Regions from separate parts of the Homo sapiens genome. Here all the other regions are reported to be linked to region 1. Evidence: microRNA targets listed by miRTarBase, many of them from high-throughput screens and not tested one by one. Region 1 holds a microRNA gene; each other region holds the end of a gene's coding sequence.
What was found. Region 1 holds the annotated microRNA hsa-miR-30d-5p (UGUAAACAUCCCCGACUGGAAG, at 2,877-2,898, opposite strand). A microRNA usually pairs through its seed, bases 2 to 8, with sites in the 3' UTR of a target mRNA and lowers its output. Matches are read on the target gene's strand: a 7mer-m8 pairs with bases 2 to 8, a 7mer-A1 pairs with bases 2 to 7 and ends in A, and an 8mer does both.

Region 2: miRTarBase lists GLCE as a target of hsa-miR-30d-5p. Seed matches in the 3' UTR shown: 7mer-m8 at 2,663-2,669 and 8mer at 3,096-3,103.
Region 3: the mRNA of ARID3A is a reported target of hsa-miR-30d-5p. Seed matches in the 3' UTR shown: 7mer-m8 at 847-853.
Region 4: miRTarBase lists PPP1R14C as a target of hsa-miR-30d-5p. Seed matches in the 3' UTR shown: 7mer-m8 at 2,072-2,078.
Region 5: miRTarBase lists SOX12 as a target of hsa-miR-30d-5p. Seed matches in the 3' UTR shown: 8mer at 3,533-3,540.
Region 6: the mRNA of IL21R is a reported target of hsa-miR-30d-5p. Seed matches in the 3' UTR shown: 8mer at 3,521-3,528.
Region 7: miRTarBase lists GOLGA1 as a target of hsa-miR-30d-5p. Seed matches in the 3' UTR shown: 8mer at 921-928.

The regions. Positions count from the first base shown.
Region 1 is chr8:134,802,043-134,806,108 of GRCh38, forward strand. MIR30D (microRNA 30d) reads right to left here and starts at 2,903; the gene lies at 2,834-2,903. It also overlaps a transcript of ZFAT not described here.
Region 2 is chr15:69,268,896-69,272,961 of GRCh38, forward strand. It overlaps GLCE (glucuronic acid epimerase), which reads left to right. Exons shown (of 5, transcript NM_015554.3): 5 at 1-3,312. The coding sequence ends at 349. Among named protein-coding and RNA genes, the nearest start is that of PAQR5-DT, 28 kb to the right of the region's middle. RefSeq lists an enhancer at 3,212-3,769.
Region 3 is chr19:971,620-975,685 of GRCh38, forward strand. ARID3A (AT-rich interaction domain 3A) reads left to right here. Exons shown (of 9, transcript NM_005224.3): 9 at 259-4,066. The coding sequence ends at 446. Among named protein-coding and RNA genes, the nearest start is that of WDR18, 11 kb to the right of the region's middle.
Region 4 is chr6:150,248,313-150,252,378 of GRCh38, reverse strand. It overlaps PPP1R14C (protein phosphatase 1 regulatory inhibitor subunit 14C), which reads right to left. Exons shown (of 4, transcript NM_030949.3): 4 at 1,987-3,633. The coding sequence ends at 3,559. Among named protein-coding and RNA genes, the nearest start is that of PPP1R14C, 110 kb to the right of the region's middle.
Region 5 is chr20:326,385-330,450 of GRCh38, reverse strand. It overlaps SOX12 (SRY-box transcription factor 12), which reads right to left. Exons shown (of 1, transcript NM_006943.4): 1 at 227-4,066. The coding sequence ends at 3,579. Among named protein-coding and RNA genes, the nearest start is that of SOX12, 2.9 kb to the right of the region's middle. RefSeq lists silencers at 3,010-3,299, 3,340-3,409, 3,770-4,066.
Region 6 is chr16:27,448,870-27,452,935 of GRCh38, reverse strand. It overlaps IL21R (interleukin 21 receptor), which reads right to left. Exons shown (of 9, transcript NM_181078.3): 9 at 894-4,066. The coding sequence ends at 3,653. It overlaps IL21R-AS1 (IL21R antisense RNA 1), which reads left to right. Exons shown (of 3, transcript NR_037158.1): 2 at 14-193; 3 at 3,130-4,066. Among named protein-coding and RNA genes, the nearest start is that of IL21R-AS1, 2.5 kb to the left of the region's middle. RefSeq lists enhancers at 36-135, 2,171-2,320, 2,661-2,710, 2,731-2,890, 2,551-3,428 and 1 more.
Region 7 is chr9:124,877,259-124,881,324 of GRCh38, reverse strand. GOLGA1 (golgin A1) reads left to right here. Exons shown (of 23, transcript NM_002077.4): 22 at 68-154; 23 at 715-3,050. The coding sequence ends at 795. It overlaps ARPC5L (actin related protein 2/3 complex subunit 5 like), which reads right to left. Exons shown (of 6, transcript NM_030978.3): 6 at 3,592-4,066. Among named protein-coding and RNA genes, the nearest start is that of ARPC5L, 17 kb to the right of the region's middle. RefSeq lists an enhancer at 1-541.

The DNA of each region.
Region 1 (4,066 bases):
AAGCTGATATTGAACAGCAATGGACTGTTTCACCAAACCTGTTGGAAAGCTAAAGCAAAGACAGCAGTGAATGTCAAATTACTAGGAAGTTTGTAATATGGTACAGATAAGAAAAAGGCAATGCCAAAACATGTAGCATGGGTCCACCCACAATTAACCAGGCTAGGCAAAGTGTGGCAGAGACTATCTGAAACAGCCTTATTTTAAAAAGTAACTAAGCCCAAACTGATATTCAAACTAAAAAAAAGAAACAAAAATATTACCTGAGCACACACAGCAAATAATGCACATTGATCCAATGAATAAAGCTGTAACAAGAGTAGAAGGGAATCACAGAACATGCTCGACGCAATACCACATGCATGCTGGGGTTTATAGGTTCACAGTCCATTTCTGGGTAACCTCAAGCCCATGACTCATGTAGAAGGAACTGAGGTGTGGAGATCAATGAGAACAAGTCCAACAGTGTATTTATATGACTATTTCTAACCAAGAATATTTGTACAAAAGCATCTAATTTGAAATAAATTGGAAGACCCAATTTTGTAATTAGTTATTTGCTTTAAAAAGTTGTCCCTAAGTCATTTCAGACCATATACTCAGGATAAAATACTGTCATTTACAGAATGGTGTTCAGTAACTAAAAATGTTTTACTTTAAATATCAATTGGTAGAACAAATCTTAAATAATAAGTAATTTCTGTGCTTTCTAAGTCCTATCAATGAATACCACAATTTTTTTCTTCAACACTAAGTTAAGGGCTAGGGAAACAAGTTATTACAGGCTTATTGACAAATACTGATGATCTAACATTTCAAGCCATTTGCTATAAATAATCAATTGCTAACCTTATAGGCCAATGGGAAGTTAGTGGTTCTTCAATATAAAAACATAAAGAAGCCATCTGAAAACTACTAAAAAAGGCTGTACCTATGTATTATACTATACTGAAGCAAGGGCATCCAGAATTAAAACTGACATCGTCTTTGATTCACCTCATTAGAGGCAGAATAATATAGAACAAATGTTACATAACACAGATTGCCCCATTAATCTGTAGCATCTAGGGATAACTGGCCTAGCTGGGCAGAGTATAACAGCTTTATTATAAAGAATGCCTACCCCCTCATTTAGCTTAGGTTTGGCCTTATCATTTTGAAAAACCTTTCAAATTTCACTGCATAAATTATGCATCCATCTTACTAAATTTTAAAGCAGTATATCAAAATTTTTCATAAGAAATAAACAGTGTCACCTGGTCAAACAAAATAATCCTATTACCACAGAACACATTACATTCTACCTTTGGCAGGGAAGACTTCTGAGCTCAGCAATAACTATCCTTTCACTGCTATTTGAGTCTAAGGTTTCCAATGTGCTAAAACAGAGGGCCACAGAATATGCAATAAATCTGCTTTATTTAGAGTTCATAGGAAGGGATGCTTGATGCATGCTAATCATCCAGCCTGAAAATTGTATTTACAAGTTGGAAAGCCACCTGAGTCTGAAGCAACTGACCCCCATCCCCAAATAAGTCTTATAAACTACTACTCTAACAAAAGAGCATTTAAAAAATAAAAGCTGTAGCACAAATACATCTGGGGTAACTACATTATGACCAAAACTGTCATTTGCTCATCTGGATAAAAGATAAGAGGCAACAGTAGACACTGCTGCAATAAGATAATATAAAATCATTACTAAAGTACTATACATGCAAGGTGCTTTACTTGCTGTTTATAACAGGAAAAAATAGAATTATCAAGATTTAATGTCTCTGACCTCAGAAAGCTTATAATCTAATCAAAGAAAATAAGCATGTAAATACATTAGATTGGCAAGACCTTTATCTTTTGGTGGTTTAATCATGTATGGAACCTAACATAGTATGTTTAGCAGTTTAATAAAAATAAATGATTTAAAAAAACCAATGCTTTATTGAAAAGAAAAATGCCAATAAAATAGAAATGTTTTCCAGTGTCTGAAAGACTAACAGAAATAAAATAACAATTTTTTAAAACTCAGAAAATAGTTGCTATAAAATTATACATTATCAATTAGTCCACACTGAGTGTCATCTGTGAGAAAAGCCCTGGATTATTCAGATCTGTGGGGAAACACAAAAAATAGATACAATACAGCTGCTTTCAGGGCAGCTATATTTTAAGGAGGAAGCAATAAATCTGAAAGCAACAATCTGAAAATACTTAGGAAAAATATTAATATAAAAAGACATGCATACCCATTAGCAAATGTAAACAGGCTTAGTGGCTTGACGTCTTGCAGTTTTTCTTAGAGGAGAGTTCTGATTAGGAGCTGTAATATCACTCAGGGTGAGGGGAACAGGAAGTGGGGGGCTAAGAGGACGGAGAAAAATGTTGCACACACATCTCTTTTAAGTATAGGGAAAGCTGAAATTTCTAGATTGCATACTGCTGGGTGGTAGTGATGAAATTATTCTCCAGAACTTCCACAGAATTTACAATGGAGAAAATCAGTCTCCTGAATTGTTGGGATGTTAAACTCCAGCCTACTTGGAAAGGTTATAAAGACTAAAATTTCATTGACAGGGCAGAAACAGGAATAGGCGGTGACACTTTTTATTTAACTAAATTCTCTAAGGCCCAGCAGCAGCACGCTAAGTCTGGGAAGCTCGAGACGGCATATCCTGTTATTAGGAGAGCACCCTACATTCAACTATCATAATACGTGCACTGTCAGTGCAGTAAAAGAATGCAGCTAAAGATTTCTGAGGTTTTCCCACACATTTTATAGCCTCCTCAACTCCACTCCGGGACAGAATTATATCAAGAGGATGTCTGTGAATAGCCGGTAGCAGCAAACATCTGACTGAAAGCTTAGCTGTGTCTTACAGCTTCCAGTCGGGGATGTTTACAACAACAGACTTTCTGAACAAGAAATTTAAGAGGAGGAACAGACATAAATGTTGCCAGTCATCATCTTCAGCTAATAATTTATATAATTTCTAGTGCTGAACAATAGCTGTGACATCTTGAAACAAAAATGATAAAGTTAATGCTAATAATTAAAGAGAAAGTGGTTCACCAAGTGCAATTTCTCCTAAATAAATCTAATTTTAAAAGAAAATACGCATTACAAATTTATCTTGGTAAGTATGAAACATTAAAGATATTACCCTGATATCCTACATGAGGATACATTTTTCCAACATATGCAAAAATAAGTTTTCTTCTCCCTAGAGTTTCAAAATAGTAAACACATTAGAATGATAACCCTAATGATCAGTGACCATACATTTCATGGATGCCTGCTGCCCTGACGTTATTGTTAAAAATGACTCCTTTTATTTAAAAAAGCGTTAATTTAGTTGACAATGAATAGAGTGGGTTTTCCTGGCAGAGGATCTAAACTGAGTAAGAATCTAACACTTTCTTCCCCTGTCTCCAGCTGATTTAGGTTAGGGATGTACAGTTCAAGGAAATGAGCAAAACAAAGAGGATAATAAAAGAAACTCATGATCTTAAATTTGTTTATAAGGCAATATACTAAAACCATTTTGTTTCCACACCACTTTTCTGAAAGAAAGGAAAAAGACTAAGTGAAATATAAGTAAATCTGCATTCCATCAAAAACCAAGATTTGCTTTAATTTAAAATATGTAAAATTGCCAGGCACAGTGGCTCATGTCTATAATCACAGCACTTTGGGAGGCCGAGGCAGGTGGATGGGTAGATCGCTTGAGTCCCGGAGTTCAAGACCAGCCTTGGGCTAAGTGGCAAAACCCTACCTCTAAAAACATACAACATATTAGCTGGGTGTGGTGGTGCATGCGGTCCCAGCTATTCGGGAGGCTGAGGTAAGAGGATCCCTGAGCTTGGGAGGTGGAGGCTGCAGTGAGCTGAGCTCATGCCACTGCACTGCAGCCTGGGCGACAGAGTGAGACCCTGTCTCAAAAAAAATAAAAATAAAAATAAAATAAAATATGTAAAGTAACCTTCTTTTGGGGAAAAAAACTATGAAAACAATTAAAGTCCACAATTAAGTCACAGTGATTTATGAAATGATTTAAGAAATGAACATACA
Region 2 (4,066 bases), not on the chromosome of region 1:
CACACCTAGCTCTTTTGTTTTAAATGGCTTTATGTATTCTTTAATTGGGCTGTATGACTTAAAAGAAACTGCAGGGGAAAAACTCGGAAAAGAAGCAAGGTCCTTGTATGAGCGTGGCATGGAATCTCTTAAAGCCATGCTGCCCTTGTATGACACTGGCTCAGGAACCATCTATGACCTCCGTCACTTCATGCTTGGCATCGCTCCTAACCTGGCTCGCTGGGACTATCATACCACCCACATCAATCAGTTGCAGCTACTCAGTACCATTGATGAGTCCCCAGTCTTCAAAGAATTTGTCAAGAGGTGGAAAAGCTACCTTAAAGGCAGCAGGGCAAAGCACAACTAGAGCTCACAACCAAAACTGCACTTCAGCCTCTGCTGTACACAGAAACTACAGGCTCTGTCTCAGGAGAGCATAGGCACATTTTAAAAGGTTATGTACTAGGTTTTTGTGGATTCTATCAAAGTGATAAGTGATCCTTAAAACCAGCCTTCTAAAATAATTGCATTCCATGGGTTGGGTATTTAGAAATGTAGGTGGCATTTAGAACACAATGTTTAATCAATGGGCTGAACAAAGATGCTTCACTTTGCCTTGCCCATCACCCTATACAGTTTCGCAGATAGTCTAGTCACTCTATGTGAGAAAGATAATGGTAAGTAGTTGCTACTGGCCAACTGTCTAGCACTTACCTGAAAACTTAGTATGGAGCTCTTTTAAAATGTGATTATTTATATTTATGTTGAAAGCGGACTTTAAAAAAAATAATGTGCTGTAACACAGTAAATATGTACTTGTAGCCTGGATAGCAGACTGTGTTCAACTTTTTAAAAAGATGTTTCCTTTCTAAAGATTAATTTCTTGGGAGCAAATGAGTATTTGTTGCATTTGTTCAATTTGTTGTATATGGTGAATATTTAATTATGGTTTTCTTGAAACGTGTAAATTAAAAACACAATCAGTGTTCAGGCTTCAGTTATATAATGTAAGCACAACTAAAATGAAACTTGTTGACTGCACAAGAAATTACAAAAATGTTTCTGTTTTGAAACTTGATCTACAATCAGTAAAAGTTTGATAATCAGTATATCCCTTCCCAACCCCCATTGTGACAGTTTCTTTTTGTCACTGTCTAGAATTTTGTATTTTATTTCAGACTATACCTTGGAGTTTTGTATATTTTGAGAGAGATATTTTTGGGACATTATTTTGGAAACTTATTACAAATCTAAATTTGGAAAGGAGCTAGTAGCTTTAAGGCCACCACCATATTTTACTTTTTTAGGATTTTTCCCCCTTTAAATAAAAATATTAGATCAAATACTATATGCAAGAAATCATAGCAAAGTTTTTTTTTCCTACCAAGATCATTCTTGATCATCAGCTTCCCAAACTAGTAAGTCTGTGCATCATTGGGTGTTTTTTTTTAATTTAATTTTAAATTATCCCAGCTATTAGATAGAAGGGATGTTACTGCACTTATGTGTAATCAGATCTTTATTTAGGTATACATATCCTCCTATACCGCACATAAATAGATTTCAGAGCCCCCATACAATGGGCAGTGTCTGCTATAGGGCTTCAGGCATTAAATAAAACCGAGGGTTGTTGATTTTGCTGTGACAGTACACTAAATCAATACTATATCTTATACAGTTTGAAAATATGATACCCTACACTTTCAGGGGACCGAGTCTGACAAACACAATACATTTATCTGTGACCTATATCAAGTACACATTTAGGAGCCAGGTAGGTTACCTGCTTACACACTATATTTTAATTGAATTCAAACTATCAAGCACTACTTAGAAACTGGAAAACATATATATGTTAGCATCAAAGGGGGCAGAAGCAAAGAAGATACAGATCTGCACTGAAGACATTAGACTGGCCATAGAAAAGTAAGCTTGAACTCCCAATTGATGTGACCACACTCTTCTTAATTTTGTTCACAGTAAAAACACTTTTTTGAGTTATTAGGCTTACCCCTAGCTTTTGACCTTTGCATTTCATATATGTTAGATGTCTCAGCAAGAATATCTGGTCTCCCCTAATTTTTATTCCCAGTGCCGATGTTCAAAATAAACTTTCTCCAGTCTGGGAACCTTTTTTACTTCCCCATATTTGTTATTATTTAGAATGGTTCATACGTCTGCTTTGTTTGCATACTGGTCTTCAGATTATGAGACTCGATGATAACAGTATGGTACTGCTTCTGTGACAAATATCGTGCCTTAACAATGTGGCTGTCCTTTTCCACTGAAGAAGGAAAGACGTTTTGATCTAGAAATAGCGTTGTGATTTCCTTGCTGTTGGTTTTACACTGCCTTCCACATTGCAACAGCAAGTTGATTTCTTGTGATCCCAGAATTTTCTAAGAGGATGAGTTGAATCTATAGCAGCATTGTCAGTACAGACCAGTGGTTCTCAAACTTTAAAATGCCTCAGCATCACTTGGGAGCTTATTGAAATGCAGATCCCAGAGTCAGTAAATCTGCCTGTGAAGTATGATAGTCTGCATTTGTAATGAGCATTCAAGTGATTCTGATGCAGGTGAGCTGGGGGCATACAGGGAGGAACACTGCCCTGGACTATCCATTGCATTTTTGCCTCTAAACAACTACAGAATTTTCTAGGGTTTTAAATTATGTAAAATGTTTACTTATTCTGAGCTTAGAGAGAATGGGGAGGGTATTTTTAAATTTTATTGTTTTATTTCTTTAAGTTTTTCTTTGCTTTAAGATTATAGGTATTAGGTTTGTTTTTGTTTTTCCACTTATCTTGAGTTCACTTTGATGTTAAATCTATTGCTACTTCAGTTGTAAAACCAGCCAAAAGTTTCTGGATGAAGGTCAAGTTTGACCTTTTAGGAGTTATTGTACATAAAGGCTTCATCCACGAACCATCCAGCGCACAGAAGCAAGTGCAAAAATGACACAAGCACAACTCTCCAGACGTGGCTCCTTCTCCTTTCTCAGTGCAGACTCTCACTGAAAGCTGCTATTTTCATCCTCCTTGTGGTTGCTTTTCTTGTTTCTCTTCCATTGTACATGTGGGTTATATACCATATGTTAAATATGCAATAAAGTGTTTACAGGATGCCCTTCTGAAGGGTAGTCCTTTGTAAAGCTGTACAGACTTTGCAGTTTAAGCACAATGTGCACATGTTAGTTTTATATACAGCAAAACTTGATTTTTTGCAGATGGAAAGGTATTTTGTTTCTATACAAAGTAAATGGATTGTTTGTGCTTAATGTAAAGCCGCTTTATAAAACTGTAAAATAAAGTTTTTTTCTTAAAAAGAATATACCTGGATATTTCTCTTTCTTCTCAAATTATTCTAAGGTTATTTGAGCCCAGCAAGCAGATTTCTGACCATTTCCTGTTCAACCCGTGACCAGAAGTCAGGCAACAAATGTTGTTCATCAAAGGCATACCAAGCCCTGTCAGACAATGTGTGGGAACAAAGAGTATGCATGGGCTTTAATCCTAAGGACCCTTAGTCTTCAAGGGGGAGCACAATGTATACTAAAAACTCGAAGAAAAATAAAATGCTAAATTGTGTACTCAGGGAAGGTGTTAGGGAAGAGACAGAGCCTAAGCTGGTGTTCCAGGGGTGGAGTCCAGGTGGAAGAAGAGGAGGGAGTAACCTGAGCAAAAACAGGTGTCCATGCCAGGTGAGAGGATGGCCTTTCCCATGCTCATTCAGACTGGGTAACCATTTTTTATTTAGATTTATTTGAGAGTTTGTCCCTCATATATTTTCTCTACTTGCCTCTTCAGAACAATTAGCATTATTTAATGTTTACCCCCTTCTCAAAGAATAATGATTTAACCTCCCAAACAGACAAAACCAGAGACCAGAGTCTTGCTTCATGTTATGTTTCATTGCACAGTATTTTTTGGATTATAAACATTCTGCACCATTTGTGTAATGGAATTACAATTGATCACGAATCAACTTTTTCCAGCTGATGGGTGCACAGATTTTGACAGGCTACTAATCAACATTCTTGGCAGCTTTTCCTTCCCCACCGTCTTCAGTTGGGAAATGGCCAT
Region 3 (4,066 bases), not on the chromosome of region 1:
AAACAAAAAAATAAAAAATTAGCCAGACATGGTGGCACGCCCCTGTGGTCTCAGCTACTCGGGAGGCTGAGCTGGGAGGATCACTTGAGCCCATGAGGTTGAGGCTGCAGTGAGCTCTGATGCCACCACTGCACTCTAGCCTGGGGGACAGAGTGAGAGAGAAGTTTATTCCCCGGAGCACCCCATTGGGTCTCCCTTGTGGCCCGCCTCGCATCTTCTTAAACTCTGCATGGCATATGTCTTCTGTTCTTGCCTTAGGAGTTCTGTTTGCTCAGCCGCCGGCCCCCACGCCAACCTCTGCTCCCAACAAAGGAGGCGGCGGCGGCGGCGGCAGCAGCAGCAACGCAGGCGGCCGGGGAGGAAACACCGGAACCAGCGGCGGCCAGGCTGGGCCAGCGGGGCTGTCCACACCCTCCACATCTACCTCAAATAACTCGTTGCCTTAACCGCATCACTCCCCACCCGCCACCCACCCTGGAGCCCGCCGGCCTGGGCAGGGGGTCCAGGTGGGCCACACAGGGGCCAGGATGGCGGAAGATACGGGTGGGGAGGGAAGATATCCAGAAAGGAGCCACAGCTGACGCCAAAAAGAAAAGAAAAAAGATATATATATATATATATATATATACACGTATATATATAAAGAGAATTTAATAAAACAGGGGAAAACCAAGGAACACTTGAATTTCTCAGGTTTTGGACATTCAGAGAGATGAATTGTGAGAACAGCAAAGAAATCCATCAGAAAAACAGAAAGAGGCAGACGTTTCCCAGGGCGTTCAGGCAGCCCTGATGGACCGAAGGCTCTGGTGTCTGGTTTGGCCCCACAGCAGTGTGGGCCGATCCTGTTTACCTCATACATCCCTGCACTGTGTGTTTTCATTTTTGTCTGCTTTAGTTCTCTTTTATTTTCTATTCACCACACACTCACCACTCCCAGCTTCTCGTGTCCAGTGAAACCCCTGAACCAAGATCACTGAATTTTTGTTTTTTTCTTGTTGCTTTGGGAAATTTTTTTTTCTCTGTAGGGTTTTTAAGAGGTTTCGGGGGTTTTGTTGTGTAAATATTCTATTTTATTCTTGGGGGGATCAAACCTTAGGAAAAGGATATCTATATATCTATATAGCTATATATTTGTGTTCCTTCAGGGAAACTGGTCTTGAAAAAGCAAGAAAAAAAAGCAAAAAAAAAAAAAAAAAAAAAAAAAAAAAACTCACCTTTTTATTTTTCCCATGACCAATTTGGGTCCCTTTGTCCATTTCTGGGGGTGCGTTGGGCAGCTGTGAGCCCAGCACATCGGATCCCTGGGGCTAGAGCCGCGGAGCCAATGAACTCAGGTGCTATGGGCCGGGCTGGGGCAGAGGGTGCATGCTGGGGTCCCACCGGCCAGGGGCCCCTGACAGTGAATTGCTGACTGTGATATTCCACGATGCTTTTGCTTGTGCCGTGCTTGTCTGCTGGGCTCTCGAGTCAGGGGCCTGGAAATTTTTTTTTTTTTTTTTTTTTGAGACGGAGTTTTGCTCTTGTCGCCCAGGCTGGAGTGAGTGCAATGGTGCGATCTTGGCTCACTGCAACCTGCACCTCCCAGGTGCAAGCGATTCTCCTGCCTCAGCCTCCGGAGTAGCTGGGATTACAGGCGCCCGCCACCACGCCCAGTTAATTTTTGTATTTTTAGTAGAGATGGGGGTTTTGCCATGTTGGTCAGGCTGATCTCGAACTCCTGACCTCAGGTGATCTGCCCGCCTTGGCCTCCCAAAGTGCTGGGATTACAGGCATGAGCCGCCACGCTGGCCCGGTCTGGAAATCTTATCTAAAAAGTAGCAAGTGCTGGAAAAAGGGCCTGGGGGGCGGGGGTGGTTCTTGTCGAAGCCCCCAGGCTCCTGTCTCAGGGATGAATGTGGCGTCTCATTGGGATTCTTCTCTTGCCCGAAAGGGCTGCTTTTGAGGACTATCAATACTGGGGAGTGGGGGTGAAGCCGGACCTCACTCAGGGTGAGGATTTCAGGGCCCCGGCATCCTGAACACCCCCCACACCCCAACATTCTCCTCGCTCTGTCCCTTCCTCTTCTCCCAACCCCTTTTGTGCTGGGGCTGCGAGCTCCCCGAGTTCTGCGGTGACTAAATCGAGGCCGAGAAGGGAGGCTGCCCCCCACCACCCTGTGGGTCAGTACCCCTCCCCCTGGCTTGGAGAAAGTGGGGTCACCGCAGCTGAGCTGGGGGGTTATTTTGGCTGGAGCTGCTGGAGCAGAAAGGCTGGGTCTGAAATGCCCAGCAGGGTCTGGGGACTTCGTTGGACCCGCGTGGTGTTGGGCGGGGCTGTCGTGTCCTACACGGGAGCTCTGGGCTTTCATTTCTCTTGGGGTGCAGTGGGGATTAACTCAGCTATTCCCAGGGTAAGCCTGGGTCTCTAATTGGGCCCTGGGAGCCCTGTTAGGCCACCGGCATGGGGGCTTGGTGAGGAAGGGGACTCCCCAGCTCCCCCCACTCCCAACCACCTCCCCATTGCCTTGGAGACCCCTGGGGAGGGGGCTGGGGGGCTTCTGAGCCCCTGAGTCTAGGTTCACTTTCCCGTCGGGCTGTGGGAGGGGACTGTCACTTTCCTGTGTCTTTGGGGAGGGGACCCCCACTTCCTTCTCGGATCTCAGGGCCGTGGACACACACCCCCTTTCCAGGAGGGGGTGGTGGGCGTCTAGGTTTTCCTTGTCCCTTCCTGGGGCCAGCACCGTAGCAGCACAATCACCCCGGGAAGGGGGTGTCTGTTTGCCTCCAGACACAATCGGGCCCCACTCGCAGAACCACCTGGACTCTGTCCGTGTCTGTCCCCCGGCCTCCAGGGCTCCTCTCCCGGGACCCCCGTCCCACGCCTGGGCCCCGCGCCGGGGGAAGCGCCTGCTGCCTATCTCTGTCTACCTCAGGTCTGACTTTTGATGCCAAAATCTGAGCCCCTGGGGTGCCTCTCCCCCGCCTCCCGTGCACCAGGGTCTGCAGCAGCCACTGGGGCCTGGCTGCCTGCTGCATCTGGCGGCCCTGGACCCCTGGGGCCCCCGTGCACCTGCCCACCTCGGAGCCTGGGGAGGGGCCGTGCAGGGTCGAGGGCTGGGTCGTCTCCCTCGGGCTGCGTGTGTGTGTCGGGAATCCTGCGTGTCGTGTCTGTGGGCGATCCGGCCTCCCGGCGGTGGGTGGACCTGGATTCTAACTCAGAGGACTTGAGCCTGCTGTTAACTCCGATGATTGTAGGGACAGGCGGGGTGGGTGGGGGGTGGGCGCGAGGCTGGGTCCCGGCCCAGGAGAAGGAAGTCGCTGAAGGCAGTGGCCATGCTGGCCGTGGAAATGGGAGGCGGTTGCAGAGGGTCTATGGGGCCCGGTCCTGGATACTCGGCAGGAAGCCGTGTCTGCAGAGGCTCCTCCCTGCCTCAGGTGGCCCCGTTCAACCCCAGCCGTGCCCATCTCCTGCCACCGCCTGTCGGTGGGGGTTTAAATTCGGTGTGGCTTTCTGGGGTGCAGCTCAGCACCCCCCCTTATGCAGACTGGGAGGGGGTCGGGCAGTCCCCTCAGCCACGAGGACCCTGGATGGGTTCTAGTTCACTTGGGACCGTGGGGCCTGGCTGCGTACTGAGTGGGTGCCCCACAGTCAAGGCCAACGGGGGCTCCCCCTGCTCTGAGATGTTGGGAGAAAGGCGGCTTCTGGAACCTTCCGTGGGACCCGTAAGTGGCTGTCCAGAAAGGCGGGAGGGTGGGCACGGGGCACGGGGGGCAGCTGGGGTCGTTGTTAAGGGTCACGCATCTGTACAGTTGAATTTCCTTTCTCTTATCATGTTTTACCCACCTTGTCCCTTTTTTCCCCAATTGTGCTTTTGCATTTTTTTCCTTGGCAAATGTAAACTCAGCCTTTCATTCATGACGTGTGAAATTTCAGTTTCTCTGGAGTTTGTCAGACGGCGTGGGAACCACGCCTGAAACTCAGGTAATAGGAGGAAAAAAAAAAAAACTTAAAAAAATTTTTAAAAAACATAAAACTACTCTCTACCTCTGGCTGGGCCCAGCCTGTCTCGCCCTGGCCGCGGCA
Region 4 (4,066 bases), not on the chromosome of region 1:
CAAGAGGACTCTGGATAAGGAGGGCCAGCATCACAGGGCCTGGCTGCACTGCAGATGGGGAGCAGGGAGTCCCTCAGTTCCCAGGAGTGAGGAAGAGCCCCACAGGTGGCTGGGATCTCCTCCATCCACAAGGCCTCCTCCCCTACCCTGCCAGCTCAGGGACCTGGCTCACTTTAAATGTGGCTTCTGGGGTTCACTCTTGTGAGTGGGACTAAGAGTAATTCCCTAAGAGTGGCAAGAAAGTCTAATGGTTATGGGACTTTGGAGCCAAATAGGTTTGGGTTTGAATCTCAGTGTTGTAGCTGTGTGGACTTAGGTAAGCTGCTAAGCCTGAGTTTATTTTCTTATCTGTAAAATGAGAATGCCACCTGCCTCATAAGGTTAAGGTCAGGATTAAATGAGATAAAGCATGCACTTAGCACAGTGCTTTTATTATGATCGTTATAAATGGAAGCCACTCCATGAAGTTTACATTGAGATTTCCCAATGTTCAAGTGAGCGCGGCACTAGAAGTTGGATAATTTGGAGCCATTGCCCTAGTGAGAAGACTCTGTATGAGAAATAGTGAGTGTGCTAATACCACAGCTGCCACCTGCTGTAATAGCATAAACATGGAGAGCTGAGGTCAGGCTAATGCATCTGGCCATCCAATGGCACAAGAGTGACCCAATGGCCCAGCGATGCGCAAGCTGGAGAGCTTGAAAACAAACACCCCAGCTCTTGTCCTGGAGACGCTGATTTAACTGGTCAGAATTGACTGAGGCCTAGGCTTCCATTGTTTTTAAAGCTTCCCAGTGATTCAAATGTACACTCAGATCTAAGAACCACAACTCTAGCTGGGAAGAAAACAGTGGAGTTTTCTTGAATCTTTTGTCATTTTCATTCAACTGGCAAACACACAATCTCTTTGATGGGCCAAGCCTAGGACCAGATGCTTGGTGAAGTCCAGATTCCCAGCCTCGAGGATCCCAGATTCTAACAGAAGACACCAACAAATGGATAGGCAATAATGATACTGTGGATGCGTCTATGACAGAGTATAGGCTGGAGCTGAGGGGGAACACACCTAGGAGGGGGTCTAACCCAGCTCTCTGGATACAGCCTGTTGGCAGAGGGGGCGTTCTGGGCCAAGGCAACAGATTTTACAAAGCACCAGAGAAGAAAATACATAGAACACGCCAGAAACTCCAAGGAATTTGGCAGAACTGGGCATGAGCACAAGGCCAAAAGATGAGGTGGGAGAGGCAGAGACAACATTTCTCATAAGGCATGCAGAGGGTTCGGGTTTCAAGCAGGGGGTGGAGTCGTCAGACTATTCTAGCAACTGGGTGGAGGATGGATCAGAGGGAGACAAGCCTGGACATGGAGAATCTGTTCCCAAGGTGGTGGCAGCAATCCAGGAAAGTTGGACATGGGATAGGTTTGAGAAGTATTCACAGAGGACAAGCTGGGTGACTGGGAGCATACTGGGGAGTCAAGGAAGAGGCCCAAACTTCTTGCTGAAGCACTCACGGGGATCAGGGCAGGAGGGAAGGTGGGGAGGAAGTGTGTGGTGGGAGCAGAGGCCTTTGGAGGAAAAGTCAATTCTTACTTCATCTGAGACCATCACATGGGCTGGTCAATTAAGCCTAACAGAAATCCTGCCCATTCTGTATTTTTCCGACTTCCATGGTGCAAGGCATTCTAACAAGTGGAATAGTTTACTAATTTGAAATGTTTTTGAGGGTTCTTGTAAGATGGCAAAGAGGAGTTTTAATTAAATGAAAGGAGCATGGCCTAGGACAGTGCCAGGCTGAGCACACAGAGCTCGTCTTCTTTCTCAGCCCAAGAATGTGGCCCAGCTCCTTTGCTTTCACCACCTGATCTGAAGATGCCTGAGGAGAGGGCCAGGATTACATGCCTAGAAATCCTTGAAAATGAAATGAAACGAGGTGAGGTGCTTGGTCCTCACCTCTGCAGAGAAACTGACACAGCAAAACCATCATGTTAACGTGTTGTGCAAGCCACACATGTCAACAGGCTTGTAAGCAGCTCCATTTATTTGAGTAAATATCTTGTAAATAAATCATTGGTAAACAATACAAAATTAAATACATTTTCAAAAGCTTGCCAGTATACGCAAAATTCACAAACATAGTTTTTTTAAAAAATAAAATATGTTCAGAGCACCCTTGATATAAAATGCCTGACCCCCATCCTTGGACAAGGCCACCTGAAGACATCTTATGGTAGGTGGGTTTCTGTGGGAGTCAGCGGGGGCCTCCTGGAGGGAAGGGTTTCTACTCTCACCTATTACCCATCCCACATTCCATCTGAATTTTGATCCTTCTCCAAAGAGCTGGTAACTGAGAGGGCTAGAGCACGCCACCAGGCCTAGCTCCAAGCACGGGGATCAGGGTGCACAATTAGGGCCAGGAGCACCCAGAGTCCTCAACACAAGCCATTGAGAGAAGCCAGAAATGCAATCTCCACACTTCCAAACCAGCAACTCAGCTCCTAGAGCAACTGTCTTGAGAGAATGTGAGGCTTTCTCACCTTGACACTTAACACTCGGTTTACTCCCACTGGTCTGATACTACCCAGGCACAGAAGCTACCAGAACCTATTTCTAAGGAAGAAGACACTCGATCTGCTAACTTTCTTTTGATCTGCTTTCCTGGAGAGAGAATAAACACAGTACTCGGTGGAAAGCAGACAATTCACTGCTACACAGTGCTTCCTTTTTCCAATGCAAAATACCACTGAGATAGTGTGGATATTTCTCTAGAAATCAAGTTAGTTCTTCAAATTAAGGGTTCATACAACTTTAAAAGACTACAAAATGAGACAATAAGCACATGACCTGGCAAAGCATCCCAACCAATGAAATAATAGAAATTCCATAAATTAAGCCCTTGACCAACTTAACATTTCTGTGGTGTAGTGCATTAAAATAACGGATACACTGAATTCTTTCACTTTGGTGCATAAAGTGAACGTTGAAGTCAGCAGCACTCAGTGAAGAATGCCTAGTGGCCTCTTGAAAACACATGTGCTGGGACCTCCAGTTAAAGGACAACCACAAGTTTATTCCATCCATGTGAAATAAAACTCACATCAACATTTTAACTTAGTTGTGTGTAGATATATACAAGTGTGAGAAATTTGACAGCTGAGTCAAATGTACAACTTAAGAAAAAAAATATTACCAAACTACTTGTAAGAAAACTATCTTCCCTGTATCATAAGGTACTGAACATCTGAGTCCTTGCAGGAAACGCAGCCTGGCGTGGCCCTTCCTTGAGTGTCCACCTCCTTTGATAATCCTTGGTTAGGCTGTGGCTAGAGTCATGATATCTTTGCTATTAAAATATTACATTAACAAAAACCTTTAAAACCAAAAAAAGAACGCTCTTGAATAAATGTCTAATAGACCCCCCCACCTTCACACCAAAAAAGAAAAAAAAAAAAACAAAAACGTTGTTCATAAGGACACCTATTCTTTCACAAAAGTCTTCATGAAGTACAAATCCCAGGACTCTTTCTTCGTCTCTGGGAGAGTTTCACCCTGTTCCAGAATCATACACTCTTCTTCTGCGGAGGGCTCAGTTTCCTCATGCCTCTTATCCGAGAAAGCAGCTCTTTGATAAATTCCTAAAAGAGATCAGAAGAAGTTAATATGAGGGTCACTATTAAAATTCTGTGTTTAAAAATCTGCTTAAAGTAATTGATGTCAACTGCAGTTAACCTTAGTTGATGAATTTGGTTGAATGTGTTAACCCCCACTGGTATAATACAGGATTTTTAAAAACAAATCAAGAATACTAAAACTTCACACCACAATGCCTTCTTATTGTTCTACTTTCTTTACGGGGGAAACCAGGCTACTTTCACTACTGACATGACCTACTTGGCCCCTGAGGCATTTGTGTTGAGATCAGAGCTATTTAACATTACCATGCAAATAAATTAACTGGTGATCTCACAGATTCTGAGTGAGCCTGTCCAGGTTGGGGTCTGAGATTCTGCATTTCCAACTAGCTCACAGGTGATGCCAGTGTTAGTCCTTGAACCTCACCAAGAATGG
Region 5 (4,066 bases), not on the chromosome of region 1:
TCGGGCTGAGGCTGGAGTCTCTAATTGACGTGACTGGTGTGCAGACTAGGAAAGTGTGCAGCCCCTAGTTTGGTGCTGATGGCATCGGTGAACAGACTCTTGACATTAGGATACATCCGACCGGCCTAGCTGCAGTTGCTGGGCCACTGACCCAATTCCCTTTGTCCAGTCTCTTGAACCCTCTGTTGTAGACTGGGTTTCTCTAGAAACAGACAATGAGACTGAGTTTGGGTTGCAAGATGTTTATTAGGAATAAGCACCTGTGAAAAGAAGAGGAAGAAGAGGAAGCAGGCCTGGGCATAGGAAGTCAAATTGTGCTGCAGGCCTGACGAAGCCCTGGCTGGCCTGGGCCTGCTGGGAGTACTGTCTGTCAGTGTCCGTCCCATGTTGGATTGAAATGACCAGGTGTTTATACCATGCCTCACTCAGACACCAGATACAGGCTGCCCCAGGAAGGGCGTGGTCTCAGGTGAAGTGGCTCTCTGCAGCTGCGGCCACCCTGATGGCACTTCCCATAGCTGGGGAAGTCCTCCCTTGAAGGGAGTTCTGGGGGCAGCTGTCCCTATCTTCCACACCTTCTCAACTCTACCTCCTCTTACTTCGCCAGCTTGCTTTCAACCAGAGAAGCTGAGAAGAAGCAGTCACTGTAATTTCCACACTCAGCCCTGGCTCCTACTGGGAAAACAGAGGCTTTGTCCCAGCTTAGGAATACACTGGATCTGACAGATGAGAATTAGGGGGAGGGGTGTCAGAGGGACAAAGGAGGGAAAAGCCTTGGACTCAGTTGTAAAACACCAGTCAGAACCTCAAAGACAAGAATCACTAGACTTCTGTTGCTCTTTGGTCATTCAGTTAATCTACTCTGCAGGCCAATGTGCGCCAGGCACTGGGACCAATCCCACCACTCCAGGCCCTCAGCTGGGGGCCTAACACAATCTGCAGATTCAAACAGGGAGGGAGAGGCAGCACCCCGAAGCCATGCTTCACCAGGAAGCAGAACCAAGCCCTGTCTCTGACCCTGGCTGCTTGCAGGCCCTCCTTTAAGTTGCTTTCCTGCCTGACCCCGTTTCCTCCTCTGACAATGGAGTAACACGATGGGCACCATGGTGAATGCTTCTCACCTCAAACTTCATTTCATCCTGTGAAGCAGCTATTATTATTATCCCCACGTTATACATATGGAAAGAGTCACACGGGTGCTCAGTGGTGGAGCTGGGCTTTGAGTCCAGACAGTGTGGCCCAATCTTGCTTCTTAGTCCTCATTAAAGGCACAGAAAGGCATGGCCAAGCCAGCCCCCTCGGACCAGACCTGCCTGCATACTTGTTTCATTTGGCCCACAGAAATTTTAAAATATGAGTCTCATTTTGAAATTAAGATGACTCAGAAACATCCATCCAGCTTTTCTTGAAAAATCTGGCCACCTGGCCACTGTGGACTGCATTCCCACAGGGTCACAACTGGCAGGAGGTAGGCCCCTTGAAGTGGGTCATGACACCACTGTCCACCCAGAGTCACTCGTCTATGTTACCTGCCTGGTCCCTACAGGGATGAGTTTGCTATTCTTCATGAAGGCCAGGGAGTCCTGACATAGAGGCCTAGACAGGCAAGGTGGCTTGCCCTGGGACACCCAGCTCGGGCCCAAATCACACGGACTTGAATCTGGCAAACTGTTTAGGGAGGGTTGAGGAAGAGCACAGACATGCAGAACCACAGGGCAAGGTCGGGGCAAATACACTTTATTCAGTCCTGGCATCAGACTGGCGGAGTCCTGCTGTGGGTGCCAGTGCCCCAGACAGAGGGACCCCACCCCTCAGCTACGAGACTAGTTCTCCAAGACCACAGACAGTGACATCTCTTCACTCACATGACGTTTTTTTTTTCATTGTCTTTTTTTGTTGTTGTTGTTTTTCTTAAAAAAAAAAAAAAAAAAAATAGAGCGCAAGAAAGGCCCAGAGCCGGAGCACCAAGCTTAAAGGAGGCAGCTGGTGGCTTTGTCAGCGACGGGAACGCGTGGGGCAGAGACCTGCAGAGACCCTGGGCAGGGGTCCGGAGGACTCTGGGACCGTTTGTTCCTGAGATTTGTGTGTGTGAATGAGAGTGTGTGAGCCACCCGGGAGGGTGAACACACGCCGGTGAGATACAGGTAGTGAGGGCAAGGGGGGTGTGGGGAGGCCGGAGGGGCGGGGCGGGGCAGAGAGATGGCGGCGTGAGAGGGGCCACAGCAACAGGGACAGGGCTCCCGAGGGCACCCTGAACTGGACACAACTTCCTCCTAACAGCAGCGTTCTCCCCATTTCTCACGTGGAAAAACCGAGGTGCAAACGGCCCATCACTACTCGGAATCCATTCTCAGTCTCACTGGCCAAGTCGATGGTCTCTCCCAAACCAGATGTTTAAAAGCGAGAGTCTTCCTGCCATCACATCTGCTCTCCACGCCTCAGTCCCAAACCCCTAGCACCAAAGTGCCTCAGTTTTTCCCGCTGTATACTGCAGCTTGAGTACTGAGGGTGGACCTGGGTGACAGGAAGGGCCGGTGCGCTCAGGGAGGAGCCCAGGTTGCGGGTGCCCTGAGGTGAGGGGGCACTTCCCAGGAGGGGGTGGGGAAGGTGCAGCAGGGATCCTGTCCCCAGACAGACTGGTAAGGTGCCTTGGTTTTTAGTTTTCTTGGGTGGTCCCTTCCTCTACTGCTGGATTTCCAGAGAAAGACCTTACCTCTCAATTCCCAGTTGGGGGGAAAAAGGGACGTATAGGTAGGCTGTAGAGGCAGCCACGCGACCGGAGAGGTGGTGCGCGTGGGTGTAGGAGACCCCATACCGGAAAAGGGGCTATGCCACTTGGGAGAGTTTCAGGCCCAAACCAACCCTTCCGAGTGCTCCTCCCATTAAGGCAGCGACGCCCCGTTGGCTGGAGAGGAAACCTAGGGCTCCCGGATCAAAGGATTTCCCAGGATCGCTCTACACTCGCCCCCGCTTTTGCCCGGAGCGGGCGAAGAGTGCGGCTCCGCTGGGACCAGCCCCCTCCTCCCCAGAAGCATTAAGCATGCGCACGAAGGGGGTGGGCCCCAGCGGAGGGGCGGGCCCTAGCGCTCCGGGGATAAAAGGGGTGCGCCCCTCCCCCCAGGGAAGGGAGGGGCGCAGGAGGCGCGTGCGTTGCCACCCGGCCGCATCGCCCCCCTAACCCAGAGAAGGCGGGCCGGGCGAGGGAGGAGAGATTCCGGAGCAAAGGAGGGGGCGGGTCCTCCGGCCACGAGGAGGGGCGTGTGCAAAAGGGGGGAGGGGTGCAGGTCTGTAGGAGAGGACGGGAGGTGTATCGGAGGGGGCTGGCTGCTGGTGGCTGTGCAGGAGGGGGCGACGTGGGGAGGGGCTTGGGTGTCGGGGAAGGGGTGGGGGTTGGGCTGCCTTGGGGTGTGTCTGCGGGGGAGGGGCATGTCTGGATCTGAGGGGGGATGGGCACGTCCAGGAGGGGGCAGGCTGCGCGGGAGATGGGGTGCCAGCCTCGGCCTCCGAGGGGCCCCAATACCTGATTCCTGTATGTAAACAGCTGGTTTGGGGGCGTGCGCGCCCCGCTGACGGTGGGCTCAGTAGGTGAAAACCAGGTCTGCGATGCTAGACGGGCGCCAGTCCCCCGCGATCATCTCGGTAACCTCGGGGGTGCAGTAGTCCGGGAACTCGAAGTGCGACGTGCCCGAGGGAGGCTGCAGGTCCGGGTCGCGATCCAGGGCGCTGCAGTCCAGGCCGGCCGGGCCAGGGGGCAGCCTGGACAGAAAGCCCAGCGACTCCTCCCCCGACGCCACCGTCTCCTCTTCACCTTCCTCAGCCGCTGCCGCCTCCTCCTCCTCTTCCTCCGGCTCCTCGTCCTCCGACGGTGTCGGGGAGGCGGCGGCGGCGGCGGCCGCCCCCTCGCCCGACGGCCCTTGGGCGCGCTCCGCTTGTCCCCGAGCGGCCCGTCCCGCCGGGACCATCCTCCACAGCTCCCGCCCCGGGGTCTCGACCAGGCGCACTTCCAGCAGCTCCTCGTCGTCGTCTTCATCGTCGTCCTCGGGCGCCGCCGCCCCGCCCCCCAAAG
Region 6 (4,066 bases), not on the chromosome of region 1:
CCTCTTGATCTAGGTACGTTCCAGCAGAGCAAGGTGAAAAAGAGCTGAAAGTGGCATCAGAAGCCCAGAGTTCTGGTTCCAGCTCCGACCACTCATTCAGTGTGTGACCTCAGGCAGGTCACCAGCCTGAGCTGTGCCTTCATTTCATCTGTCAGACGGATGACTCTGCCCCTCAGAGCTTGCAGACGGCAAGGTGAGGAATGCGGCAGCTGGGAAAGTGACGTTGCTATCGGTCCCCCTTCCTCTTCAGTGAGTCTTGTCAGCAATTCTGGCCTGGTCTTTGGAGGGCGAGGAGCGCCTGTCCCACTTGCTCCTGACCCTTGGTCGTACCTCCAGGCCTTTGTCCAAGCTCTTCCCTCTGCCCCAAATAGCTGGTACATGTAACAACGCCTATTCATTTTTCCTTTTTTTTTTTTTTTATGAGACGTAGTCTCGCTCTGTCACCCAGGCTGGAGTGCAGTGGTGTGATCTCTGCTCGCTGCAACCTCCATCTCTCAGATTCTCCTGCCTCAGCCTCCTGAGTAGCTGGGGTTACAGGCACCCGCCACCGCACCCAGCTAATTTTTGTATTTTTAGTAGAGACTGGGTTTCACCACGTTGCCCAGGCTGGTCTCAAACTCCTGACCTCTAATGATCTGCCCGCCTCGGCCTCCCAAAGTGCTAGGATTACAGTCATGAGCCACCACTCCCAGCCTCCTATTCATTTTTCGAAGTCCAACCAACACCACCTCCTCCCTGAAGCCCCCTACTCCTCTTGATGTTCTCTCTGGGCTACCATCGGTGAGCTGGGACTCACTCATACCAGCCAGGAGGGCAGATTGTGCATATCTCTTCCCAACTCTGTGTTTAGACTCAAATCAGGAGCATGAAATTACACCATGGAAATAAGCAAATGCTACAAATCAGGCTTTATTGAGTGCCTACTATGTGCCAGGCTGGGACTAAAGGCAGTGAACAAAATAGAGTTGCTGGCCTGGTATAACTTGTGTTTTATCTTTATCTTTGTTTCCAGTATGCATTTATCTCTGTCTATCCAACCAATCATTCTTCCTTCAAGCTTTTTATTAAAGCCATTAAGAGTAATATCAAAGACTTTTGCACCAACTTAATACCATCTTCCTATCCACCCACACATCCATCCATCCTCCATCCACCCTCCTACCTACTAATCCCTCCTTTCAGGTGAGCCAGCTCTTGTCTCCAACTTTTATTTTTAAGAGACAGGGTCTTGATCTGTGACCCAGGCTGGAGTGCAACGGTGTAATCACAGCTCACTGCAGCCTCAAATTCCTGGGCTCCAGCGATCCTCCCACCTTAGCCTCCCGAGTAGCTGGGACTATAGGCAAGCACCACCACACCTGGCTAATTTTTTTAAAAAATAATAATTTTTGTAGAGATGGGGCCTTGCTATGTTGCCCAGGCTGGTCTCGAACTCCTGGCCTCAAGTGATCCACCTTCCTTGGCCTCCCAAAGTGCTGAGATCACAGGTGTGAGCCACTACGCCCGGCCCTCCAACTTTGCTCCTCTGTGTTTATAAGCTGAGTTCCCTTCAAAGGTGGGATTCTGAGGAGCCTCATCTGCCCCAGTCCAGAGTCCCCCAATCTGGCCTCAGGCCTTCCCCAACCATCTGTGTTCCCCTCCGCCACCCAGCAAGCTCTGGGTGCAGGAGAGCTGTGCTGCTTTCCTGGGAGCCTGTGGCTCAGGTGGCACCCACAGGTGGCTCCTGGAACCTGTTGCCCCCAAGAAGGTGTGAAAACCACAGCACATCTGGACCCAAGAGTCCCTAGGGTGCAGGTGCACGGGGTGTTGAGGGCTGCGCCTGCTCCGTGCAGAAGCTGTGTTTCCACTCTTGTGCTCCCATCCAAGTCTCACACCCCCCGATCCCAGGCTCACAGTCCCACTCTTATAACCATCAGTGTTCTAGAACCTTCCAGCCTCCTGCCAGGCACCGAGGACTCTCATGCATTCTCTCAGCTACCTCTCCCAACCACCCCACTTCACAGATGAGTCACGAAGGAACCTTCCGCAGGACTGACCTGTGCTGACTTCCAACCCGACCCTGTTGCAAAAGCATGGGTGAGCTAGAGCTGGCTCCTCCAGCACAGCCCTGCAGCCTGCAGTCTGACCTTTGGGGAGGAAGACGGGGCCGGGCCAGGGTGGCCCCAGCTCTACTAAAAATACAAAAATTAGCCAGGCGTGGTGGTGTGTGCCTGTAATTCCAGCTACTCTGGGGCTGACGCAGGAAATCGCTTGAACCCGGGAGACAGAGGTTGCAGAGAGCCGAGATCGCACCACTGCATTCCAGCCTGGGCGACGAGAGTGAGACTCTGTCTCAAAAGAAAAAAAAAAAAAAGAAAAAGAAAATGTTGCTAAGAAATATTTTCTTAGCTTCTTAATTCACATTTCAACAGGTTCTCTGACAAATCATTGACAAACAACTTGACCTCCCTTCAATTCTCCAGGATGAACAAATAAGACAGGATTTATTGGCAGGATTGAATTGGGGCAGGGTAGGGGGCCCAGCAGGATGTGTGGCCGGAGCACACTGCATAGTTCCAACCTGCAGCCCCCTCCATGAGTGCCACGGGGGGTGGGTCCCATGAGCCATGGCCTGCTACGTAATTGGTGTTTAATAAATATCTCTTGGGTGCATAAAGGGAATTTTTAAAAACTTAGTAGCAGAAGTTAGAAAAAGAAATCTTGGTTGGTGGGGAGCTGTTTCCAAGAGACGAAACGGACTGATTTTAAGCCTGGAAACCCCCCCGAGTGGCCCTCTGCAGGCGGGACGGCCCCGCGGGTGCCCAGGCTGTCGCTGACGATTGATGTTCTCACCCCCGCCCGCCTCGGCTCTGGCCGCAGAAGGAAGGAAGCTGACGTTTATTGAGGGTCTGCTCTGGGCTGCGTACCGTACACGGGTGACATCGCCAATTTCCCCCAGGTGTGTCATGCCTTCCCCACTGTCTGGATAAGGAAACTCTAGCCCAGAGAGGGGAGGCGACTTGGCTCAGGTAGCACAGCCAGAAGGTATCAGAGTCGGGATTCAGACCTTCGTCCAGGGGCCGCCCAAAAAATTGCCATTCCCGAGGTCACCATGGGCTCACTCCATCCCCTTTCGCTTCCTGTTGGCAGGTGATAAGGAACAATATGGACTTCTTGCAGCTCCTGGAGGCAGACGCTGGAGGGCTGGGCTCCGCCTCAGTCACAGGCAATGCCCTGATCCCACAAAGCCCCGGAGATGCTGTGGACCAACTTGCAACACAAGACCCTAGGAGGGAGGACGGCTGTTGTCATCTGTTGACCACAAACACGTTTACTGTGCACACTTGTGCACATGGGTGAGCTCCGTGAGTCCAGACATGCACAGGGCAGGTGAATGCATGGAGTACCATGGGCATTATCCCAGGCCCACAGGCACGTGCAATCACACACACACGTGGACATGCCACTGCGCACCTAAGACACACACACACACACACATGCATATGCACACACACACATATGCACACACACACACAGACACTGTAAACATCAGGCTCAAAGGCCCATCCAGGAGACCAAAGGCTGCAGGTGTCTTCACATCACAGCCCAGGTGACCTTGTCTCTGGCTCAGGGCCCAGTGGCCTGGCCAGCTCTGGACATCCAGTCAGCCTCATTAGCTGGCCTGGGGTCCAGGGCTCGAAAGTGGCGGAGGAATGACCACCCACTGGCGGAGGTAGCTCCGGGGGGGTCCTTCGTCCCCGGGGCTGGTGAAGTCACACTCCACAGGGCTGCTGCAGTCAGAGCCCACAAAGCCACTGTCAAACGTGTCCATATCCAGGCCGGCCAGGGGTGAGCCCGCCTCACTCTCTGAGACCCCTCCAGGTGACCGGCCACCCCAGGGCAGTCCCCCAGCCCAGTCCTCCCCATCTGCAAGGGGTGGCTTTAGTCTGTCCAGGAGGCTTCCCAGGGGCCCTCCTAGCCCAGGGCTGCCAGCTGAGACACAGCCACAGGACAGGACTGTGGTCCCTGCATCCAAGAGTGGGTCCTCTAGGCCTGGGCTGGGCTCCAGGCCAGCATCCAGGTCCAG
Region 7 (4,066 bases), not on the chromosome of region 1:
GCTCCCCCGACCCCACCCCGCCTCACCTTCACCAAGGCCTATGGCAGCAAAACTTACTGTGTTTCAGGCTTTTCATCTTATAAAAGCTGTGTCAGTGTTGCTGAACTTTTCCCAAGAGGAGGAGAACATGCTCAAGGAAACTCTGGAATATAAGGTAGGGTTCTCTGGTCTACTGTTCCAGCTTCCAAGATACGTTGTCAGTTATCCCAGCAGTAGCAGTGTAAGACCCCTTAGACCCACACCCGAGTGTAGGCACCAGCACAGCTGCATGATCAGCTTGGCTGCTTTTGGATGAACTTGATCCAAGCACTTTTTAGCGATGACATCCTTTGTGCCCAAATGTCTGTGCTGTACTTGACCAACAGGCCACGTATTTTTCAAAGCATTTTCATTGATAGCGCTTTATCGAGAGCCCCAGGTCTGGCTCGGCACTCAAATTCCAAAAGCGTCTGCATAAATGCTCTAATAGGAAAAAATACCTGCAGTTCCACTACCTTGTTCCTGTCAACTCAGTGTTTTTCTCTCATTTCCCTCCTGTACTGAGCACGGGCCTGCAGACTGGTTACTGGCACCATCTTCTTGCTCTGCTCAGAGCCAGAGGCAGGATGTGTGGGGGGCAGGAGTGACAGGCTCACGGGAGGGGAGGGGCGGTTCAGTTTCCCTGGCACCAAGTCCTGATTTGCATCTCAGAAGCCTTTTCTGTTTCAAATGCAGATGTCATGGTTTGGGTCCAAACCAGCTCCCAAGGGCAGCATCCGGCCGTCTATCTCAAACCCTCGGATACCATGGTCCTAGAGGGGACTACCCAAGGATGGAGCTCCGTGGGTTGACACTTTTTCTGTGAAAAGAACACTGACACACCAGTCTGGGTGGGTTTTTAATCACTGTAACTGCAGTATTTTGTACAAGTGTCTAAACATTGTTTACAAGACTAAGGCCCACTTCCCTGCAGGCTGACCTGAACCTCAGGGGGTAGCTGATCCTGTCATTCTGGTCACCAAACAGGAGGGTCCTGGCACTACCCAGATTTCCACAGTGCTGCTAATATCCCAGCTCCAGCCAGCACCCCATCTGCACCTGAATCCTCTAACTTCACGGTAGCACTTACAGCTGAAGCCATCAGCATCTGGCAGGCACACCTGAGTCACCATGTAGCGCTGCTACTGGAGGTAGAGACGGCCCTTTGAGATGGTGCCCAGCAGGCCAAACCCACCTGCCTCTGCCAGGAACAGCCAACTCCATGGGAACTCTATGGGAGTGGCTTTTAAAAATTCAGATGAGTTAGAAGCTTTTTATCCCTTCCTCTCAAGAAAATATTCTTTCACCCTGTCTCTCAAACCACCTAGAACTTTAGAGGATCCATCTTTAAGGGTCGGTGTGGATGAATGAGAAAATGCACCTTTCTGACAGTATCTCCACTTTACTTAAGAAAACTAGCAAATATATGAAAAGACCCTTAGTACCAAATACACTCAATTGCCTTTTTAATGAATGTACTTGTCTTGGATAGGTTGCTGGTAAACCATTTTAAACTATTTTTTATAGCTGAAGTTCTTCACTACTATAAACATGTCTTCTGTACTATAAAATCCATTTAACTGGTGTTCTTAAAATCAGAGCGTCCAGAGGAAATTCTTCCTAAAACTAGGATTCCTGTTCCTTTGTCTTCTCACTCGCACTCTGGCACTGCTCCCTCTGAAGTGCAGTGGGATCTCGTGTGCTTTGTCTTGATTCTGTGCTGCGCTGCCGCTGGGCGATGCAGACCACCTGTCTTCTACTGAAGGACAGTCCGCTGTCTCCAGTGGGGGCAGCAGCTGTCCCCCAGCCTCGATGGAGACACTGGGGCAGTCTGCCTTGTCTGTGGAGCTGCTCTCTCTCCCTCATCCCACCCCAAATACTTAAAATGACACTACACCCAGACGGCGCCCAGCTGGCTGCAGCACTTGTAGCATGCACATGACTCTGGTAGTAACCAACAAAAACTTGTTTTATGGATTCCTCGTTTACTGAGGAAAGGGAACATGCTGGTTCTGGAAAAGCCACAATATTGAATCTAAAAGGAAACCGTTTATTGTTTGATGAAAGTTTCACTGGTTAAATAAAAAACTAAATTAATAACTGGAGCCTCTAAATTTATTATCCATTATCCAGTGATGGAAAGTTGTATTTCTCAATCATGCTTAGGGCCAAAATAGGTATATAAAATGTGTCACAGAAAAACACGCATTTGCAACGTTAACCTAACGAAATTTCCATGAAGAACCAAGTCAGGGCAGCATCTCCTTAGTCCCAGCTCAGGCTCTCTGCCTTCCAGAGGCCGCTTCTCCAGTGACTAACCTCCTCCTCTGGCTCCTCCTTGCAGACAGTTATCCCTTGTTTAGAACACGAATTTCCATTTACCTGGTGGGAACACGAAACAGGAGTCTCTTCTGTTCTGCAAGTTTGATGGGTAAGAGGTAGCCTTTTTTCAAAGTAGGATTTCCTTTTTCAACTGTTCCAGGAAAGAATCTCTAAGACTGGGTAGCTCACAGCCAGCCAAAGGCAGCTACATTTCCACAGAAGCCCATCCGCTGCCTCCGTGGCTTCTCCAGCCATTGAACTGGTCCCACACGCACCCCAGGCCCCACTCCTCGGCAGTTTCAGGTGTAGCTGTGGGGCCCGTTCCTAGGTCTGTACTCACTTTAGGGAGGCTTCACTGACTAGGCTTTCCTCCTGCATGTTGAATTTCCTTCAGCTTTAAGAGGAAGAGTGGAATAAATATTCTAAGTGATTTAATGCACTTTGACTTGTATAAAACTTTCTGTGTTAGCGACGGTATCTATAGCCCTTTATACGAGCGATGGATCTTGAGCTCTCCTTCCATGTTGTAAATAGGGATTGTATTCTTGAAAACTGCTGTAGCAAATTCATCTGTGGTGCAATACACTTTTTGATTAAAGCTCTTCAATCCAGATGCAACTACAATGGATTTTACTAGTTTGGTGTGTCAGTATTTCTTTGACTCATTAAATCTGGTATTTTGTGTCTCATATTTAACACTCCAAGGCCAACCTCAAGGGCTAGAGAATGTTTGTCTTTCTTTCAGAAAGAACCTTCCCAGACTGGATTTGGGTGAATAAATATACGTAATTTAATGAAGCCAACAGCCCCATTCTACCCCCCCCAAGAATTGCAGTGGTTCTGAAGAGGGACTGAGGAGGGGAGAGCTGTGGAGGGGAGGACTGTGTCACTTTGGTCAAAGTCTGTATCCAAAGGCTGTATGACCCAGAGGAGCTTCTGGAGTGTGAATGGGGCCCTAACCTTTAACAGAATGCAAGCTGCAGTCACATGTGCTGAAAAGGAAAGAAAAGCATTTTTGCCCTTCAGAGAAGCTCTGTTATTGGTTATGGGGAACCAAATTATACCATCTATTTGCTGATTGATTGCTCCCCATTTCTGACGTTTAGTTCTTTAAAGAAAGCTTGTCCATGCAGCAGTGATTCTGCAGCACAGCCAACCCAGCATCAGGAGACGTGACCAGGCACATCTGAGGCCCCACCCTCAAAAGATTCCAAGTGCAATCCCACAAACTGAAGACTTTTAAAGCCTAGATCAATTATTAAATGTTTGGCACTTTATTAAATTAATTAAATAAGCTCCAAAATTAATTACATACAAATCAAAGGAATAAGAAACAATAAATAGTTTATTCAGCAAACACCTCTCTGCAGCAGCCGGCAGCTCTGAGGCCGAGGCTGGCGTCCTGTGGCAGAGGGCCTGTGGATTGCCATGCTCGCTCCCAGGGGTGGCTCAACAGGGACACAGGTCTACTCCTTCCACATCGGGTTTCCGGAACAACAACTGAACTCTCATTCATTACCATCCCATTCATTACCATTTTTTTTTACATACACGAAACACACCGCAATGTATAGACTAATAAGCCAAGAGCTTTATTGATGCAGCAGGCACTTTACAATGAGCCCAAGAGTGTCCACCTTCTCTGGGAAGACAGGATGTCTGTACAAACTCTTGGGTTTTTTTCCACTTCAAAAACACAAGCTCTCCCGTTTACCACAGCCCTTGG